Linked DNA regions of Homo sapiens: region 2 is linked to region 1. The links come from fine-mapping of genetic effects on gene expression. A gene starts in region 1. The other region holds a variant in brackets. All regions are shown on one strand. Distances are between the middles of the regions. Region 1 holds the start of SPMAP2 (sperm microtubule associated protein 2). Region 2 overlaps C2CD4C (C2 calcium dependent domain containing 4C).

Region 1 (10,462 bases):
TGCCGGTGGCCAGGAGTCCGGCCTGAGCTGGGGCGAGAGATGAGCGCTTTCTGAACACCTGAGATAAGACTGTTCTAATTCCTGAGTGTGAGCTGGAAGCTTTGGGATCCACCCGGACTGAAGCGCAGGGAAGGATGACCCCTGGGCGGCTCTGAAGACAGTGAGAGATCAAAAGAAAGCTGCTCCCAGACAAAGGCAGCCGCCCTGTGCAGCTTCTCCTCCTCCCCTGACTCCCAAACGCAAAGCCTCTTTCACTCTCTGCCGGGTCCCAGCCCGCCTGGCGGGGGTGAGTCGCGGGGGGCACGGGGCACCCACCTCAGACATGGGCATGCTCCAGAAGTTATCACGAATCTTCGGGGCGGCCAGTTCCTTCAGGCGACTCGACGCTCTGTATTCCAGGGAGGACCGAGGAATGGGCCAGACAGGAGTCGTCCTGGGGGAGGTCCCCATTTTAGACCAGCAGCTCGGCCGGGGGTGGGGGTGTGTGTGTGTGTGTGTGTGTGTGTGTGTGTGTGTATGTGTCTGTCTGTCTTTCCCAGCTCCTCCATATGTGTCTGTCTGTCTTTCCCAGCTCCTCCTCTGTTTCTGGGGTTAAGAGAGCCTGGGAGAGTGGTGAGTTTTGAAAGCGTCTCCAAACAGGGATTCGTAAAGAATTTCTAAGAGTTCTCAAGTACAGAGCTACCATCTCCCAGGGTTGTCTCTGCTCAATGTGCAACGTCCACCCTCAGGTCCAGGCCTTCTCCATTCCCTTCTGGGACGGCAGCTCCTCCCAGGCCTTCTCTACACACCCCCATCATCAAGAGCCTGGCGTGAGCACTTGGACCCAAGGGATGAAAGTGTCTGTCCTGAGGTTGCAAAGCTGGGGAAAGCGAAGGACAGCTGAGCTCCCGGGGCTGTGCCTTCTGAAATCAGGTCTCAGCTATGCCTCTGCTCGGAAATAAAGCCGCATTTCATTGATTCTAAGGCAAGGTCTCCACATTGAACAGGTCTGAGGTTAGGATGCAGCTTACGAGTGCTGCCAGCCAGATGGCGGAAGTGTCCTGGCTACATCTGGCTGCATCTGTGTGTGCTGTTCACGTGATCTGCACTGCTGCTTCTACAGGAGTTAAGTTTAATTACAGTTTAAATTGTCTTCAGGTCACAGTATGATTTGGCGTTAAAAAGTGCACAGAGGCGTGAGGACAGTGTGTGCGACACCCACATCAACGTCTGTGTCAGAAGTGGTTCAAAACAGTTGGACACACTTCCGCTGTCTACTTCAGCTGTGCTTTCCTTCATACGCTGCATAAAAGATGGGTAATTATATGTTGTGTCTAAATAACTAAAGATCACTTTTAACAAGCACAGGGGCTGTAAGTGGTAAGAAAGAATTTTGTACATAAAATACTAATGTGTCTTAGAATTTCCACCTTTTTTGAGTAAACAAAATACAGTCACAATGGTGATAACATCTGAGCACGCACTGTGTCAGGCGCTGTGCAAATCCCCGTTCACGGGTGCCCTCCACCACCATTCCACAGCTGGCAATGCAGTTGCACGGGGCCAAGCAGCCTGCTGGGGATGTGGACTGGGAAGCAGCCTGCTGGGGATGTGGGCTGGGAAGCAGGCCAGCCCCGTCTGAACACCAGCTGTCTAGGGCTAGGACCTGGACCCTTTCCCACACAGCATCCTGTCAGGCGAGAATAAGGCATTTCTGCCAAACTCTGCCTTCTGAGTAGCCACCCAGCCCTCCTTCCCCCACCTGTTGTTGTTGTAATATTCCAGGTAGAATCTCTTGGGCCGAGACAGTTCCTCCACGCGGCGGGACACCGCTATGCAAAATGGGAAACGGAGTCAGTGAACCCCAGTGTCAACACCCTGCAGTTCCCAGGGGCTTCTGCATGCGGAATTCAGCTTTTCATGAGCTTGGGCAGGAGGCTGAATTGGAAGAACTGTGGGCAGAGACAACTGGGGGCCAGACACCCTGCAGAGAGAAGATTTGCTGTCCCTGATTTAGGGACAATGGGCTCAGAGGCTTGAAGGTCCTTTCTCGGACACCGGATGGGAGTGGCAGGGCTGGAACAGCAGCCCAGCACCGTGGCTCCTCAACGGGGCTCAATACAGATCCAGGGACCCACAGGCTGGGAAAATGGGTTTTGTTCTGAAGTTAGTACAAGCCTGGGGTTTCCAGGGGCCTAGTGATGACTGTAGGTCTAAAGTCAAGAACAGCACAGGAGAGAACTGGACTGTTATTCTCCTCTATGGGGAACTCTCGAAGTGTCTCATTTGAAGGTATCTATGATACCTCAATACCAAATTCCTCTCAAGAAAAGCATGGAAATCATTGTGGAAGGGAAAGCAAAGGGTCTTTTTGTAAATTCTTGCCCCGATTTGGCCCTATCCTAGAGAGTGTTCCCCATGCCCCTCACCCCCAGGACCAGTCTCAGCTCTAGCTCCTCAGGGGACAGACTCCAGTGGGGAGGACAGAGGCTCCGAGGAGATGGGGCAAGGGAGGCCAGAAGTATCTAGATGGGGCGGGGCAGGTTCCCTGGAGGCCGGCAGCCGGGGGCAGGGGTCTCAGCAGGCACGGGCTCCACCTACCGGGCACTGTGATGGTGAGGGTGGTGTCCTCAAGGAACCGCTCGGTCCAGTACACAGAGGGCCTGGAATAAGCGGACGGCTCAGGGCAAGGGAGGCAGAGAGCCCTGGCCCTGCCCGGAAACAAGCCTGGGTCTCTGCCAGGAGGGTGGCCGAGGTGGGGTGTGGAGTTGCTGGGAGAGGGGGTAGGCCAGAGAAGGACAGTGGGGGGGCCGGCGGGACGCGTGGATTATTGTGAGCAAGGCTGATGTCCAGAGAAGGAGGTAGCTGGGGGAGAAGCATAGCTAAGAAGAGGGCCCAGGGCCACCTCCTGGGAGCAGACCCAGGTCACAAGGGTGGAGAGCCCCACATCTGAGGAGCCCTCCCTGATCCTCCTCCCTGGAGAGAGGAGGGTGGCTGGAGTGAAGGGGTCCCCTGGAACCTGACACGTGTCCCCCAGCATAGGCACACGGCGGAGACAGCCCTGGACTTACCAGCAGAGACAGAAGTGCAAGCTCATCTTACATGGGGAGATCCAGGCATACCCCTTACCACAGCGTCCCTTCCTGCGAGGAGACAGGGTCCGAGCCCCACTGCCTCTTGCCCTGGGTCTCCCGTTTGCTCCCAAACTCCTCACTCTCCTTTGGCCACCGCCCAGAGGGCCACCGTTCCCTAGCCACTCCCAGTGTCTGGCCACCTCCTTAACTGGCCAACCCCACCTACCCTAAGTTTGCTGGATGTGGTGGCAGCTGGGGGAGGGGAGCCGAGCAGTGGGGACAGGAGGAGCCCGGGAAGGGTGCAGAGAAAGCCGCCCACGCTGCCCCTACGAGGCCGTGGTCTGGCGTGTCCTCACCTGTCTTTCAGGACTTGCCAGTTTATCTTGGGCTCTGCCAGCTCCATGAGCCTCCTCCGCCTCCTCCTCTTCCTTGCTTTGGTCATGGTGGTGCTGGGGAGCTTCTGGCTGATGGACAGCCGGCTTTGGGAGAATTCCACGTTGAAGTTGGAGCTGCTTTCCCGCCCCGATGCGTTTGGGAGCCCAGAGAAGCGTGGGTCTTGCTCAAGCGCCTTTTGTCTGCACTCACCCTGCCCACCCGCCTCTCCTTTCCCTCGAGGGGTCTCTGAGGGAGGACTTTGGCACCACGAAGGCCTGGACCAACCGCAGCTCCACTGCTCGCTGGATGGAAGACCCGTCCAGGTCACCTGTCTCCCCTGGTCCTCAGCTTCCTCCTCTGTGAATTGGAGGTGAGACCAGCTCCCACCTGGCGGGGCTGTTTTGGTGAGTACTAAGGTAGTGTTTACTCATCTCACAGACATCTGTCAAGTGCTTACTGTATGCCAGGCCCCAGAGGGGCAACCACCCTCTAAAGAGAGCGGCTCCTGCCTCCCAGAAAGCTCACAGACTGTGGGAGGGAAACAGGCAGCAGGTGAAGATGCCAAATGCCAGGATATCTGCCCTGTCCTTGCTTGATGCAGCTGCTGGCTCCCACGTTCTCCCCAGAATCCCCTCACACTCCTGCTGTTTTCTCTGCAGGTTGGCAGAGCCCCATGAGGGCAGGGCAGCCACTTTGTTCTTGGGCGGCAAACCTCCCTGGGCGGCACGGAAACCACGGTGAGAAGGGGGCAGGTCGGGCACGTGCAGGGACCACGCTGCAGGGAGGACGGGAGCCGAGTCCCAGAGGTATGTAGAGTGCGCGCCTTGCTGGGGACACTCCAGCAACTGCCCAAAATCAGCGCCCCCAGTGCTGATTGGCCGAAGCGTCAGTTCACCCAGAACGTGTTCCTCCCGACCATTTAAAACCTTTTAGCCACGTGTGGTGCTTAGAATGGTTTCAACTTTTGAGTTGGGAGGCTTTTTTTTTCCCATTTCTTATTCTCTCTGTCTGACTTGAGGCCATCACTCGCTAAACTCTGAACTCTGGGCACCTGAACTCAGTCTGCCTGACTCCAAACTCAGCGCTGTTTACTCCTCCTCCTGCCACCAGATAGGGGAGCGTCTGCTGGTGTCTGCCTCAGGGCCCAGTGAGGGGTGCTGGCCGCCAACCGACCAAGCCCACACCTAGGCTGACTCGGCAGGGCCGGGCCCCTCGGGAGCAGCGAGCCAGGCCGGTGGCCGGTTACGACCCTTTCGCCCGCCCAGGGGGCTGCTGCCCTCCCCCCACTGCCAGGGGCTGAGCCCTACCCCACCGCACCCAGGCAGGCCCGTTCCCCGGTGCCCACCTGATTTCAGGAATGTCCTCTTCCAAGTCCTTGTCCAGGACTCTCTCCAACTCAGAAAGTGCCTCTTTGGGATCCAGGGTCTCCGGGAACTCCTCCCCGGCCACCTCCTCGGGGGGAAGCTCCTCTTCTGGGTCTTCTGGTCCCAGCTCTGCATTGTCCAGGTCCTGGCGTTCGGGGTCTGTGACCCGCCGGCTCTCGTACACAGAGCTCTGGAGGCCACGGGGGTCGCCGTCCTGCTCCCTTTCCGACCTGCCCGCAGCCTCAGAGCTGGGCTGGTTCCCGAGTGACCTTCGCCTGCTGTCCCCCATACACCGGTCCCTTCCCAGCCCCCGCGGCCTCACTCTCCCGGCACCCAAATGTGTCTGTGGTGGCCGCGGCAACAGGAGAGCGTCCGTCACATTCCCCACGGTCCACATTCTAACCCGTGCGCCGTCTCCAATGCTGGTCACCTGGGCTTGCGCTGGGATCAGGACTCAGTCCTGGTGGTCACGGCTCACTCAGGACCTCCCAGGATTGGTTTAGGAAGGAGACCTGACGGGAACCTGCAGGGGCATCTAGCTATGGATTCCCTCTCTCAAAAGGAGACACAAGGAAGAGACCGCGTCTCCTGTTCCTGTCCCTGTGGGGCCCGTCGGTAATGTCCAGAGCCCAGGCAGCCTTCTTGTGACCATGAGGCCTGCCATCTGAGGGCAGATGAACTGAAAGGTGGGCCTTTGATGTGGCTGTCGAGCCTCTGAACTTAGCAGCCTTGGAATCCACTCTGTGTCCAGGCTTCTTGTTACTTGAAACAGTAAGTTTCCTTAGTACTAAGTCGTTTTGGCTTGGTTTCCAATTCCTAGCAGCTAAAACTGCACCCTAGGTGATACAGACGCTTCCAGCCCCAACCTCTCATGAGAAATAACTTCAAAATAGGCTGTTCCAACCCTCACAACAAAATAATGGTTATAACTGGAGTATTCCCCAGGCTGCTGCCTTCAGGAATTCCTCGTACGTCGCCAAAGGAGCTGAATTTCCAGCCTCTCCCCCTCTGTGCCCCACCCAGCCTCTCCCCCTGTGTGCCCCACCCAGCCTCTCCCCCTCTGTGCCCCACCCAGCCTCTCCCCCTCTGTGCCCCCACCCAGCCTCTCCCCCTCCGTGCCCCACCCAGCCTCTCCCCCTCCGTGCCCCACCCAGCCTCTCCCCCCCCGTGCCTCCACCCAGCCTCTCCCCCTCTGTGCCCCCACCCAGCCTCTCCCCCTCTGTGCCCCACCCAGCCTCTCCCCCTCTGTGCCCCACCCAGCCTCTCCCCCGTGTGCCCCACCCAGCCTCTCCCCCCTGTGCCCCACCCAGCCTCTCCCCCTCTGTGCCCCCACCCAGCCTCTCCCCCTCTGTGCCCCACCCAGCCTCTCCCCCTCTGTGCCCCACCCAGCCTCTCCCCCCTGTGCCCCACCCAGCCTCTCCCCCCTGTGCCCCACCCAGCCTCTCCCCCTCTGTGCCCCCACCCAGCCTCTCCCCCTCTGTGCCCCACCCAGCCTCTCCCCCTCTGTGCCCCACCCAGCCTCTCCCCCCTGTGCCCCACCCAGCCTCTCCCCCTCTGTGCCCCACCCAGCCTCTCCCCCTCTGTGCCCCACCCAGCCTCTCCCCCCCCTGTGCCCCACCCAGCCTCTCCCCCTCTGTGCCCCCACCCAGCCTCTCCCCCCTGTGCCCCACCCAGCCTCTCCCCCTCTGTGCCCCACCCAGCCTCTCCCCCTCTGTGCCCCACCCAGCCTCTCCCCCCTGTGCCCCACCCAGCCTCTCCCCCTCTGTGCCCCACCCAGCCTCTCCCCCTCTGTGCCCCCACCCAGCCTCTCCCCCTCTGTGCCCCCACCCAGCCTCTCCCCCTCTGTGCCCCACCCAGCCTCTCCCCCTCTGTGCCCCACCCAGCCTCTCCCCCTCTGTGCCCCACCCAGCCTCTCCCCCTCTGTGCCCCACCCAGCCTCTCCCCCTCTGTGCTGTGTGCCCCCACCCAGCCTTTCACCCTTCTGTGCTTGGTGGTTTTCTACTCATCATTGAAGACTCAAGCCTGTCGGTCCCCCACGCAGGGAGAGTCCCTGACCATCCCTCCCCTTTCTGGGCTCCCAGGCCTAGGACCCCCACCCCTACCCCCACCCAGTGCTAGCCCACCCCGAGGACTGCTCTGTCCCTCACCCCTGCCACCAGCGTGGGGCCGGCCCTCCGGGCATGGTGACCACTCGGCACGCAAGAGACCCAGTTCATCGACACACACAAAGCCCTCTCCAGCTCCCATCCCATCTCCCTGATGCTCTGCTCCCAGACGCAGCCTCACCACCACCTCTGTCAGGAAAGGGGTCTCTCGGAGGACTCCAGGCAGAAGGGCCCCGGGGAGGATCCGGTCCCATCAAGGAGGCCATGGGAAAATCCCCTTTCTTGGCCGGAAGTCTCGTAAACCCTTACCTTGCACTCAATGATTTACTTTTCTCTCTTAAGTTAAACTGGATCAAGATCTGCGGGTGCCTTTCACAAAGAGATGAGTTAGGCATTGTTGCCGCTGGAGGGCCTGTGGCCACTGCAGTGTTTCCAGGAGACCTCGTTCAGAGCAGGGCGCCGCACCCCGAGGCTGCTCCCTAACCCTACTCCAGGGAGGCGCGGTTGGGGGTCTGGCAGCCTCCGGCTCTCAGCACCCAGGCAGCACCCAGGCTGCAGCGCGTTTAGCCCTCATGGCAGCCCGTTGTGGAGAGGAGAGGCAGATGAGCGCTCCAGGGTCATGGGGAAGCTCCCAGGGCCACGCGGCTGGTGGAGCTGCACCCGGCACCTTCTCGGGGGAGTCAGGGCTGGATGTCTCTACGGCAGGAGCCGGAGGAGCTCAGGAGCGCGCGGGGACAGCAGAACTCTGCCCGCACTCGGGGGAGAGTTGGAGGGTCCACGTCTGCTCCAACATCCTGTGGAAAAGCAAGACGTTCACAGCCAAGGAAGTGCATGATTTCTGAATGTTGTGTGATGTTGCTTTGAGCAGAAAATAGAGGGGGACGGGGACCGGGCTGTGGGATGTGTGGGGTTCTGACTGCCCGGACCTGGGGCGTCCGCCTGGCAGAAAATAAACCAGGTCCCTACTGTGTTCCTCTCTGCTGTGGCCGCCTTAACACATATCACAAGCAGAGGCTCCAGCAACACTGAGCGATTACCTGGCCGCCCTGGGCTCAGAAGCCCAACATGGATCTCACTGGACTCAAGCCACGGTGTGGGCAGGGCTGGTTCCTGCAGCCTTCAGAGGAAGGCCCGTCTCCTGCTCATTTGGTGGCCACAGAATTCAGTGCCTTGTGGTCGTAGGACTGAGATCTGCGTTCTTGCTGTGTGTGTCAGCCGGGGGCCCTTCCCAGCGTTGCTGTGTGTGTCAGCTGGGGGCCCCCCAGCACCCAGAGGCCACCGCTCTTCTCAGTCCTGGCCCCTCGCTCCATTTTCAAAGCCAGCAACGGCCAGTCAAGCCCCCTCACATGGATGCTCCACTGGCACTCATCTCTGAGCAGGGCTGGGAAACCCGTTTGGTTATTACGGAAACAGGTGATTGAAGGTCAGCCTGGATAAGCCAGGTGCTCTGACCCTCCACGTCTGCAACCCCAGTCCCACCTGCGAAGTCCATTTTGCCACATAAAATAACATGCTCCCAGTGTCAAACTCAAACGAGCACATAGAGAGGCATTTTTACGTAAGACATTTTGTTTGGGAAAATACATAAAAACAGAATTGAGACCTGGCGCGGTGGCTCATGCCTGTCATCCCAGCACTTTGGGAGGCTGAGGCGAGCGGATCATGACGTCAGGAGATCGAGACCATCCTGGCTAACACGGTGAAACCCCGTCTCTACTAAAAATACAAAAATTAGCCGGGCGTGGTGGCGGGCGCCTGTAGTCCCAGCTACTCGGGAGGCTGAGGCAGGAGAATGGTGTGAATCTGGGAGGTGGAGGTTGCAGTGAGCCGAGATCACGCCACTCTGCACCCCAGCCTGGGCGACAGGGCGAGACTCCGTCTCAAAACAAAAAACAAACAAAAAAAAACCAAAAAAAACAGAATTGCAATTTCGGGCCTGTACACAGACCGGGAGGTCTTCGGTATATCTGCAGCAGGTTGGGGCTTTTACTAGAAGGAACAATGTTGCGAATCATTTCGAAAGAAAGCTCGCAAGAACTGGAAGCTTTGGGAGCTGGTGAGCTGTGACTGGGAGGGAGGTGGGGGCAGAAGGGACCTGGTGAGCTGTGACTGGGAGGGAGGTGGCGGCAGAAGGCGTCTTCATTTAGCTGAGGTCACCTCCACAGCTCCCAGGTCAAATTGGCTTTAGGGTCACGGCAGGCGGTTTCGGGCGCTGGCCTGTGACGCCGTCCTGGGCAGGCGCGTGCATCTGAATGCTTTTTACCTGGTCTCTCGACTGTTGCGTTGGGTAACTCCCATCCATATCACCAGTTTCACACCAGGTTCCAGGGACGAGGATGTGGACACCGTTGGGGATCACTATTCCTTCTGTGACACCTACCTCATACCACACACAACAGCCCTCAGTGGATACGTGAAAGCTGAAACACAACTTCAAAACTTACAGAAAAAAATGAATGTGACCATGCTTTTGCGCTCCATGTAGGGAGTAATTTTTTTAACAAGACATGTAGAGTGCTAATCATACACGACCAATAAGTCGGCCATATTAAACTGAAGCCTCATGTTCAGGACTCCTCAAAAAAGTGGAAACAGAAGCCACGAATGGGAATGCAGCATCTGTCACATCTATAATTGATTAGTACCCACCATGAATAAATAGCTCCTATAAATGAATAAGAAAATAGATGAGTGCTGGCTGGGTGCGGTGACTCACGCCTGTAATCCCAGCACTTTGGGAGGCCAAGGCAGGCGGATCACAACGCCAAGAGATAGAGACCATCCTGGCCAGCATGGTGAACCCCGTCTCTACTAAAAATACAAAAACTTAGCTGGGCGTGGTGGCGGGCGTCTGTAATCTCAGCTACTTAGGAGGCTGAGGCAGGAGAATGACTTGAACCCAGGAGGCGGAGTTTGCAGTGAGCCAAGATCCTGCCACTGCACTGCGGCCTGGGTTACAGAGTGAGACTCCTCTCAAAAAAAAAAAAAAAGAGCAGAACCCTGGTGATGAGCAGATGTAGGACGTGGGGCAGAACCGTGGTGATTGATGAGCAGATGTAGGAGGTGGAGCAGAACCGTGGTGATTGATAAGCAGATGTAGGAGGTGGAGCAGAACCGTGGTGATGAGCAGATGTAGGGGGTGGGGCAGAACCGTGGTGATGAGCAGATGTAGGAGGTGGAGCAGAATCGTGGTGATTGATAAGCAGATGTAGGAGGTGGAGCAGAACCGTGGTGATGAGCAGATGTAGGAGGTGGAGCAGAATCGTGGTGATTGATAAGCAGATGTAGGAGGTGGAGCAGAACCGTGGTGATGAGCAGATGTAGGAGGTGGAGCAGAACCGTGGTGATTGATAAGCAGATGTAGGAGGTGGAGCAGAACCGTGGTGATGAGCAGATGTAGGAGGTGGAGCAGAACCGTGGTGATTGATGAGCAGATGTAGGAGGTGGAGCAGAACCGTGGTGATTGATGAGCAGATGTAGGAGGTGGAGCAGAACCGTGGTGATTGATGAGCAGATGTAGGAGGTGGGGCAGAACCGTGGTGATGAGCAGATGTAGGAGGTGGAG
Region 2 (10,462 bases), 24 kb after region 1:
AGGATGATGGGGAAGGATGATGGGAAGGATGATGGAGAAGGATGATGGGGAAGGTTGATGGGAAGGATGATGGGAAGGATAATGGGAAAGATGATGGGGAAGGATGATGGGGAAGGATGATGGGAAGGATGATGGGAAGGATGATGGGGAAGGATGATGGAGGATGATGGAGAAGGGTGATGGGGAAGGATGATGGGAAGAATTATGGAGAAGGACGATGGGAAGGATGATGGGAAGGATGATGGGGAAGGATGATGGGAAGGATGATGGGGAAGGTTGATGGGAAGGTTGATGGGAAGGATGATGGGAAGGATGATGGGAAGGATAATGGAGGATGATGGAGAAGGGTGATGGAGAAGGACGATGGGAAGGATGAATGGAGAAGGACGATGGGAAGGATGAATAGAGAAGGACGATGGGAAGGATGAATGGAGAAGGATGATGGGAAGGATGAATGGAGAAGGATGATGTGAAGGATGAATGGAGAAGGACGACAGGAAGGATGAATGGAGAAGGACGATGGGAAGGATGATGGGAAGGACAATGGGAAGGATGATGGGAAGGATGAATGGAGAAGTATGATGGGAAGGATGAATGGAGAAGGACGATGGGAAGGATGAATGGAGAAGGTTGATGGGAAGGACGACGGGAAGGATGAATGGAATGGGTGATTGGGCACCAAGTGAGAGCATTCGGTGACACCTTTTTTTTTTTTTTTGAGACTCCCTTTTTTTTTTTTTTTTGAGACGGAGTCTCGCTCTGTCGCCCAGTCTGGAGTGCAGTGGTGTGATCTCGGCTCACTGCAAGCTCTGCCTCCCAGGTTCATGCCATTCTCCTGCCTCAGCTTCCCACGTAGCTGGGATTACAGGCGCCCGCCACCACGCCTGGCAAATTTTTTGTAATTTTAGTAGAGAGGGGGTTTCACCGTGTTAGCCAGGATGGTCTCGATCTCCTGATCTTGTGATCTGCCTGTCTCGGCCCCCCACAGTGCTGGGATTACAGGCGTGAGCCACCGCACCTTAAGTAATATTAACCGCTTTAACACGACCAATTCAGGGTCTTTTAGTGCCTTCGCAATGTTGTGCAACTATAACTTCTATTAAGCTCCAAAACATTTTTTTAAAATAAATTGTCGGGCCGGGCATGGTGGCTCACGCCTGTAATCCCAGCACTTTGGGAGGCCGAGGCGGGCGGATCACGAGGTCAGGAGATCGAGACCATCCTGGCTAACACAGTGAAACCCCGTCTCTACTAAAAATACAAAAAAAAATTAGCCAGGCGTGGTGGCAGGCGCCTGCAGTACCAGCTACTGGGGAGGCTGAGGCAGGAGAATGGTGTGAACCCGGGAGCGGAGCTTGCAGTGAGCCAAGATCGTGCCACTGCACTCCAGCCTGGGGGACAGAGCGAGACTCCGTCTCAATAAATAAATAAATAAATAAATAAATAGTCAGTGTCTTGCTTTTTGGCCCAGGCTGGAGTACAGTGGCATATTCACAGCTCACTGCAGCCTCCAATTCCTGGGCTCAAGGGATCCTCCTGCCTCAGCCTCTCACGTTGCTAGGATTGTAGGTACAAGCCACCATGTGTAGCTCCCCAAACCATTCTTCTTATCTCAGAAAGAAATCCTCTGGATTTAGCTATATTTGACATTTCATGTAAATATAAGCAGACAATATGCGTCCTTTTGGCCTGAGTTTTTTCACTGAGTGTCATGTTTCAAGGCCGTGCTCCATTTTTTTTGTGATTGACTACTATTCCAGCCTACGAATATGCCGCACGGTGGTTCATCTCTCTCTGCCGATGGACATTTGGGCTGTTTCTACGTTTCGAATGATGTAAACGAGCTGTGTGTCTTCTTCAATAAATGCCCATTGAAGTCTTTTGCCTATTTTTTAATGGGGTTGTTGGTCATTTTGTTGCTGAGTTGTATGCATAGTTTATGTGTTCTGGATACTTGATCCTGATGAGCTCAGTGAACATTTATAAACAAACTGACCATAGCAGCCCCCACTCCAATGAAAACGCCACCTGTGACGGCCCCCAGAGGCCCCTCGTCCCTCCTGGTCCCTGCCCCGGGGGCCCCATCCTGACTTCCATTGCTGGCAGCGGGTAGGTTCATGTCGGCTGCTCTTGAATTCCTCCTGCCTGGGCTGCCCCGCGTGATCCACTGAGTGTGGCAGAGACGTGTCGTGCTGCTGCCTTCAGCAGCTCCACCTGCTTGCTGAGAAGGTTCCCGGTGCGTTTGGAAGGCAGAGGCTCCTGGGCTTGCAGGTAGGTGAACGCGCTGACAGAGAGGACTCGGCCGGCGCACCCCCTCACCCCCGTCCACCATCCTGAACACCTAGTCCTCACACATCCTGGAAGATTTGCAGCCTCAGTCTCTTCCAAATGTGTCTTACTCCTCTCTGCTCACCCTGGTGCCAGGCATCCGCCTTTGCCCATCCAGACCCAGCACCAGTGCCCTGCCCTCCCCTTGGCTTCTGTGCTGCCCGGCCATGCCCCTTCCTTCCAGACAGTTCAGGTCATCCTAAAACGTTCATCCAAGCCCTTTGCCCACAGGATAAAGTCCACACTCCTCTTACAGTCCTGTGACCCACAGGCCTCCTTGGAATTTTGGGGCTGAGTCCTTTCTGCTCTGGGGCTTCACAACCCTTTTGTCCTCTGGCCTCCTCTTCCAGGAAGTCCTCCAAGGGCAAGCCTTGCAGGACTCAGACTAGGCACCCACCCCAATGCTTGTCGATGAGAAAGCCTCAGTCAGGAAGGAACTCGGGCAGACCAGGGATGGTGCCCCTGCTCCATGACATCTGGGAGTCTGCTCTAAGACCAGGAGGCTGGGGCCCACCTGGGCTGCCAGCTGCACCTGCCTCCCTGGGCCACCTCCTTTTCATGGCCTGGGTTTGGAAGCTACCCACTGCCACTTTGTATTGCGCGGAGCAGTCTGGAGGGGACAGGCCCAGTGGCCACTGCTCCATGGGGTGAGTCTCAGCTCTGGAGAGCGCAGGGCCGGGAACATCATGTCAGGGACACCCTGGAGCTGTGGTATCCCCGACACGAGCATAAGGCACAGCAGCACTCAGTCCACATTTGCCAAAGGAAAGGGGAACAGCCAACACGCATGACCCCTCACCGCGTGCAGACGACGCGTGACCCCTCACCGCGTGCAGACGACACGTGTGACCCTCACCGCGTGCAGACGACACGTGTGACCCTCACCGCGTGCAGACGACACGTGAGACCCTCACCGCGTGCAGACGACACGTGAGACCCCTCACCATGTGCAGTCACCTTGCTAGGCAGCTTATGTGCCTTCTCTCGTTTCATCCTCAGGTTTGGGAAAATTATCCAGAACTTGGAAAGGGGTAAAAACATCACTGCCTGCTCTTTGGATCCTGGACCCTCGGCACGGTGGGCCTCAGAGCTGATCATTCCCTGGGGTGGGGCCGTCCTGGGCACTGCTGGGTGCTGAGCAGTGTCCCTGGCCTCCGCCCACTCCACACCAGGAGCTCCCCTAGTCGTGACAACCACAGAAGCCCCAGACGTTGCCCCGTGTCCCCGAGGGGCCGAATCACCCAGAGGATCAGTTGTATTCCAGAGCCTCGACCAGCCCGGCCACCCGGGGGTCACTTTGTGGACGCTTCCCTCCACTCTTGCCAGTGTCCTGGCTCTGGGGTTGGACGCTGCTTGGGATTGACAAATGCGGATGAGTTTTGTCCCTGAGCGGCAGGTGCCTCCTTCCTCCTGCTGCGTATAAAACTCAGTCCAGTCCTGCCGTTCCTTAGTAAACACTCGGACGCACCTTTGACCTACAGTGGCCCGTGGTCTGAATGAGGTTTATGCGTGAGTGCTTTGAAAGCTCAATGTTGCCATCACCTGAAGCCTAGAGGGCAGTGTGCACTGGGCACCTCACTTACACAGGAGGAAACTGAGGCTCAGAGAGGGGGAGGGGCTGGCAGTGTGGGAGCTGCAGTCCTTGATCTGAGCTGTCCCCGTGACTTTGGGAGATGAGGAAGGAGCATTCTGTGGCTTGGCTGGGGGAGCCCAGGTGGGAGGGGAGGGTGGGGACACAGTGGCTGGTGGGCGGGGGGGTGCCTCTGAGCCGCCTGGGCCACAGGCAAAGGGGTTAGGGAGGTGAGAGGGGAGCTTGGGGGCAAGGGTCATGTGTCTCCACGGCCGGGCAGGTGCACACTCCCAGGGAGGCCACGAGGACTCTGTGGCCCGGGGATTGGAGTGAACCACGCTGAAAGGTCAGAGGGCAGTGTCCCAACAACAGTGCCCCCGTTCCAGCCCCAACGGCAGCCCAGGGGTTCCCAGGCCCACCCTCACTCTTGCAGGGGTCCCCAGGCCCACCCTCACTCTTCCAGGGTTCCCAGGCCCACCCTCACTCTTCCAGGGTTCCCAGGCCCACTCTCACTCTTCCAGGGTTCCCAGGCCCACCCTCACTCTTCCAGGGGTCCCCAGGCCCACCCTCACTCTTCCAGGGGTTCCCAGGCCCACCCTCACTCTTGCAGGGGTTCCCAGGCCCACCCTCACTCTTCCAGGGGTCCCCAGGCCCACCCTCACTCTTCCAGGGGTCCCCAGGCCCACCCTCACTCTTCCAGGGGTCCCCAGGCCCACCCTCACTCTTCCAGGGTTCCCAGGCCCACCCTCACTCTTCCAGGGTTCCCAGGCCCACCCTCACTCTTCCAGGGTTCCCAGGCCCACCCTCACTCTTCCAGGGTTCCCAGGCCCACCCTCACTCTTCCAGGGTTCCCAGGCCCACCCTCACTCTTCCAGGGTTCCCAGGCCCACCCTCACTCTTCCAGGGGTCCCCAGGCCCACCCTCACTCTTCCAGGGGTTCCCAGGCCCACCCTCACTCTTGCAGGGGTTCCCAGGCCCACCCTCACTCTTCCAGGGGTCCCCAGGCCCACCCTCACTCTTCCAGGGGTCCCCAGGCCCACCCTCACTCTTCCAGGGGTCCCCAGGCCCACCCTCACTCTTCCAGGGTTCCCAGGCCCACCCTCACTCTTCCAGGGTTCCCAGGCCCACCCTCACTCTTCCAGGGGTCCCCAGGCCCACCCTCACTCTTCCAGGGGTTCCCAGGCCCACCCTCACTCTTGCAGGGGTTCCCAGGCCCACCCTCACTCTTCCAGGGGTCCCCAGGCCCACCCTCACTCTTCCAGGGGTCCCCAGGCCCACCCTCACTCTTCCAGGGGTCCCCAGGCCCACCCTCACTCTTCCAGGGTTCCCAGGCCCACCCTCACTCTTCCAGGGTTCCCAGGCCCACCCTCACTCTTCCAGGGTTCCCAGGCCCACCCTCACTCTTGCAGGGGTTCCCAGGCCCACCCTCACTCTTGCAGGGGTTCCCAGGCCCACCCTCACTCTTCCAGGGTTCCCAGGCCCACCCTCACTCTTCCAGGGGTCCCCAGGCCCACCCTCACTCTTCCAGGGGTCCCCAGGCCCACCCTCACTCTTCCAGCGGTTCCCAGGCCCACCCTCACTCTTCCAGGGTTCCCAGGCCCACCCTCACTCTTCCAGGGTTCCCAGGCCCACCCTCACTCTTCCAGGGGTCCCCAGGCCCACCCTCACTCTTCCAGGGGTTCCCAGGCTCACCCTCACTCTTCCAGGGGTTCCCAGGCTCACCCTCACGCTTGATGATTTGCGAGGACGCACGGAACTCCCAGCAAGCTGTCCTCGTCACAGGTAGGGTTTGTCACAGTGCCGGGGTGCAGGTGCCGTGGGCTGGGGAAGAGCACATGAGGCAGCGTCCCGGAGAAGCCCCGTGGTCCTGTCCGGGGAAGCCGGGAACTGCTCACTCACAGGGCGCACGGACCACCAGGAAAGGGCACGGCAGCCTAGGCGCCCAGAGCTCTGCGAGGGATCCCTCGTGGGGGCTTGATTGACTGATTGCTTGCCACGGGGTTGCCCTCGAACTCCAAGGGTGTCTGACGCTGTGAGACCCAAGGCGCTCCCAAGTCCCACGGTTGGTCTTGCTGGTGTGACCCTCCCTACCCCAGACCAAGACGCTCCCCTCAGGCAGGGCAGAAATCACCTCCCAAAGCCAAGGCAAAGCCCAGACCTCACCCCGCA[C/T]GAGAGGATTCCTCACCCCACGGGGGAAGGTGCGGGTCTCATCCGTGGCACCGCAGCAGGGCTCAGCCGGTGACCAGGACTGGGTGCCACGGGTGCTGGGTCCGTGCCCACTCCAGCCCCACCAGCAGGCAGGGAGGGTACAGGGTGCTGCAGAGGAAACCGAGTCACAGAGAACGGAGGGACTTGTCAGGATTCTGACCCATGGCTGGCAGAGCACAGCTCCCTGGGGCCCTCTCTGCCAGATGGCAGGGGCCGGCCATGCAAGCAGGTGTCCAGTCCCACCCAGGAAGGGCAGCGTGGGTCCAGCCCTGGTCCGAATTCCTGTCCTGTCAGCTGGGAGGTGTGCGCAGGCCCCTTTGCCTTCTGTGCCTCGGTGTTTCCATCTGTGGATGGCAGTAGGCAGCGTCTTGCTGAGGATTCAGCGGGTCCTCCCGCCCACCCACCCACGATGCGCTTAATCAACAGGCCCTGCCCTGCGTGTGACCCTGGAGAGAGGCTCTGGGACCACGTCACTGTACAGTAGGGTAAACTGAGGCTCAGGCGCCGGCCCGCGGGAATGGCCCGCCCTCGTGGGAGGAGCATGTGTGCGGGTCGGCGTCCGCCTCCTCCTTTTTATTGAAGTCATTTTTCTCCTCCTGTCAGCGGAACTGGCCGTGGGCAGCCCCTCCCTCCCACCCCCAGGAGCTGAGAAGAAAACAAAAGCTTAATCGAATCCGGCACTGGGGCGGTGGGTGCCGCAGAGAGAGGCCGAGGGAGCCCCCGCCTGGGTGGGTCTGAGGCCGCCTGTAATTATGGCCCTGATGTGATTATATTAATTATCGTCGCTATTTTGTGCCGGCTTCCGCCCGGCGAGCCTGTGGATTGAGCTCTACTGCACACAAGCCGCCAGGGCTCATCACAGACAGAGCCTTCGGCCTCGGGAGCCTGAGACCCAGAGAAGCCACGCACTGCCCCGGGCCACACCCCACGTGGAAGGTGGGGCTTGAAACTCACCCTGCGGCTCCCCACACACGTCAGGGTTAGAGGTTCAAGGCCCCAGAGAGGACAGGCCGCAAGGCAGGGGCCCTGGGAAGGTGTTACTCCTCCTCCTCGGATGGGAGAGACCCACTGGATCAGTGTTCTGTCACCTTAAAAAATGAATCAGCCGGACGTGGTGGCTGACGCCTGTAATCCCAGCACTTTGGGAGGCCGAGGCAGGCGTATCACCTGAGGTCAGGAATTTGAGACGAGCCTGGCCAACTTGGTGAAACCCCGTCTCTACTAAAAATACAAAAAACTAGCTGGGTGTGGTGGCGGGCGCCTGTAATCTCAGCTATTTGGGAGGCTGGGGCAGGAGAATCGCTTGAACCCTGGAAGAAGAGGCTACAGTGAGCCGAGACTGCACCTCTGTACTCCAGCCTGGGCGACACAGCAAGACTCCGTCTCCAAAAAACAAACAAACAAAACAAAACAAAAAAACTGAAACAAGCCGGCTTGAGCAAACAAGGCACTTTACCGGCCCACCCTCTGAGCTGAAATGGTGCGCAGTTATGGACTTCAGGCATAGCTGGATCCAGGTGTCCGCAATGTCTCCAGGCTTCTGACTCTTCATCTGTTGTTCCCTATGATGGCTCCCCTCTGAAGAAGGGGCATCTTTTTGTAATTTGCACCAAACGGGGTGCCCCCCGCTTGTGGTGCCCATGGCCTTCCTGAGGGTCGGGAGACTCAGGATGGCCGCCAGTCTGAAAGGAGAGACTGCTGGCAGGTGTGCCTGCCTCCTTCACCGCACAGCACCCACTGGGGCCGAGCGCTCTGTGGCGCCAGGGATGCTGGAGGTGCAAACAGTAGATTCGTTCTGCTCAGGATCAACATCACAAGGCAGCAAACGGCCACAGCCAGGAGGGAACAAGGGCATCTGACTCCCCCGGGGTGGGGGCTGACCTGAAGGGCAGTGGGCCAAGACCTGAGGCAGGGCGAGACACCACGCAGGCGCAGAATCCCTGGATGACGCCCACTTGGAAGTGGAGGGGGGAGGGCATGGGCAGCTGCAGCTCCCAGACACCAGCACACACAAACGCACACACAAGTGCACACCAGCAGCGACACAGGCACACACAAGCGCACACAGGGTCACACATGCATACACGGCTCACGTGCTTACACGTGCACACGCCAGCACACAGGCAGCTATACTCGAGTGCCTGCAGGCGCTCACCTGGCACTGTCACATACGCCCAACAGATGAGCACGGTAACGGCACACGCAGTCACACTGCACACACATGCGGAAGCACATGGCGACGTGTGTGCACCTACCTGGCACGCACACGCACACACCCGTGCAGCCTAGCGATGAGTGGCTGGGGCTGAAGAGGCTACAAGGCGCCCGTAGCCCTGTCAACCCGTCCCAGGCCCTGACTGGGGCTCACCAGGCCGCGGTCAGGAGGCCGGGCTACGCTGAACCCCAATTCCCAAAAGCTCCTGGTGGATTTGAGATGGCAGAGACATCTGGACCCCATGGGCAGCAGGAGAGACAGAGCAGCCCAGCCTGGGCTGAGAGCACAGGGACGGGTCCTGCCCCGAGGGGTGTGAGGGGGGGACGGGGTCCTGCCCTGAGGGGTGTGGGGGGGACGGGGTCCTGCCCTGAGGGGTGTGGGGGGGACGGGGTCCTGCCCCGAGGGGTCTGAGGGGGGGACGGGGTCCTGCCCTGAGGGGTGTGGGGGGGACGGGGTCCTGCCCTGAGGGGTGTGGGGGGGACGGGGTCCTGCCCTGAGGGGTGTGGGGGGGGGACGGGGTCCTGCCCTGAGGGGTGTGGGGGGGACGGGGTCCTGCCCTGAGGGGTGTGGGGGGGACGGGTCCTGTCCTGAGGGGTCTGAGGGGGGGACGGGGTCCTGCCCTGAGGGGGTGTGGGGGGGACGGGGTCCTGCCCTGAGGGGTGTGGGGGGGGGACGGGGTCCTGCCCTGAGGGGTCTGAGGGGGGGACGGGGTCCTGCCCTGAGGGGTGTGGGGGGGACGGGGTCCTGCCCTGAGGGGTGTGGGGGGGGGACGGGGTCCTGCCCTGAGGGGTGTGGGGGGGGCACGGGGTCCTGCCCTGAGGGGTGTGGGGGGGACGGGGTCCTGCCCTGAGGGGTGTGGGGGGGACGGGGTCCTGCCCTGAGGGGTGTGGGGGGGACGGGGTCCTGCCCTGAGGGGTCTGAGGGGGAGACGGGTCCTGCCCTGAGGGGTGTGGAGGGGGGATGGGGTCCTGCCCTGAGGGGTCTGAGGGGGGGACGGGTCCTGCCCCGAGGGGTGTGGAGGGGGGAACGGGGTCCTGCCCTGAGGGGTGTGGGGGGAACGGGGTCCTGCCCTGAGGGGTGTGGAGGGGGGATGGGGTCCTGCCCTGAGGGGTGTGGAGGGGGGACGGGGTCCTGCCCTGAGGGGTGTGAGGGGGGGACGGGGTCCTGCCCTGAGGGGTGTGAGGGGGGGACGGGGTCCTGTCCCGAGGGGTGTGGGGGGGGGACGGGGTCCTGCCCTGAGGGGTGTGGGGGGAACGGGGTCCTGCCCTGAGGGGTGTGGGGGGAACGGGGTCCTGCCCTGAGGGGTGTGGAGGGGGGATGGGGTCCTGCCCTGAGGGGTGTGAGGGGAACGGGGTCCTGCCCTGAGGGGTGTGGGGGGAACGGGGTCCTGCCCTGAGGGGTGTGAGGGGGATACGGGGCTGTGTCTAGAGGGGGTCTGTGGAGACAGGGTCCTGTCTGAAGGTTCTGAGGGGAGGCGGGACCCACCCTGTAGGGACCGTGTGGGGTCCGAGTCCTGTTTCCTGACATCCATGTAGTCAAGAGCTGGAACCGTGAAGCAGAACCCAGACCTGCCGCTCCAAGGGAGGTGGTTTATCAGGGGCTGGGCTCCTGCCCCCGCCTGCCTCCACCCGGGGCAGGAGAATGCGGAGGGCAGTGGAAAGGACCTTGCCAATCTGGAATCCTCTTCTCCTTCCTCCCTGGAGTTCACCGCAGAACTCTCTCGTTATTAAACAGCCAGGGAAGCCAACCTCCACCCCCGTATTCCCGAAACACCTTTATTGCACTATAAACAGCATTTATAAACAAACACAGCTGGGGAGTGTCTTAAAGATTTACCCACAGTCAACCTCAGACACTAAGATATCAAAGAGTGCAGGGGGGCTACTAAACGGGGGACCCCAGGGAGAACAGGGCCTGGGAGGGGTGAGCATCAGAGAAGGCGGGGAGCGCCGGCGTCTCTCTCCATGCAGGGCACCCTCCCCGCCTCCCCGGCCTGAGGAGCCTCCGCCCTGGGTGCCCTGGCTTCCGGGAGAGAGCGGAGCCCTGCAACACCAGGCTCAGAAGGGGCCTGCACTCTCCCTCTGGAGGGCTCACAGGTGTGTCCCACCGGACGTGCAGCAGGGGCCCAGCTGCTCCTCCAG

What was found.
Region 2: its variant is fine-mapped to the expression of SPMAP2 in thyroid (GTEx, PIP above 0.99).

The regions. Positions count from the first base shown.
Region 1 is chr19:370,890-381,351 of GRCh38, forward strand. SPMAP2 (sperm microtubule associated protein 2) reads right to left here and starts at 5,137. Exons shown (of 8, transcript NM_016585.5): 1 at 4,774-5,137; 2 at 3,410-3,532; 3 at 3,051-3,122; 4 at 2,581-2,642; 5 at 1,742-1,811; 6 at 316-433. The coding sequence starts at 5,081.
Region 2 is chr19:395,363-405,824 of GRCh38, forward strand. It overlaps C2CD4C (C2 calcium dependent domain containing 4C), which reads right to left. Exons shown (of 2, transcript NM_001136263.2): 2 at 10,083-10,462. Among named protein-coding and RNA genes, the nearest start is that of C2CD4C, 8.6 kb to the right of the region's middle. RefSeq lists an enhancer at 2,624-3,823. The variant C/T (reference allele first, on the strand shown) is at 6,068.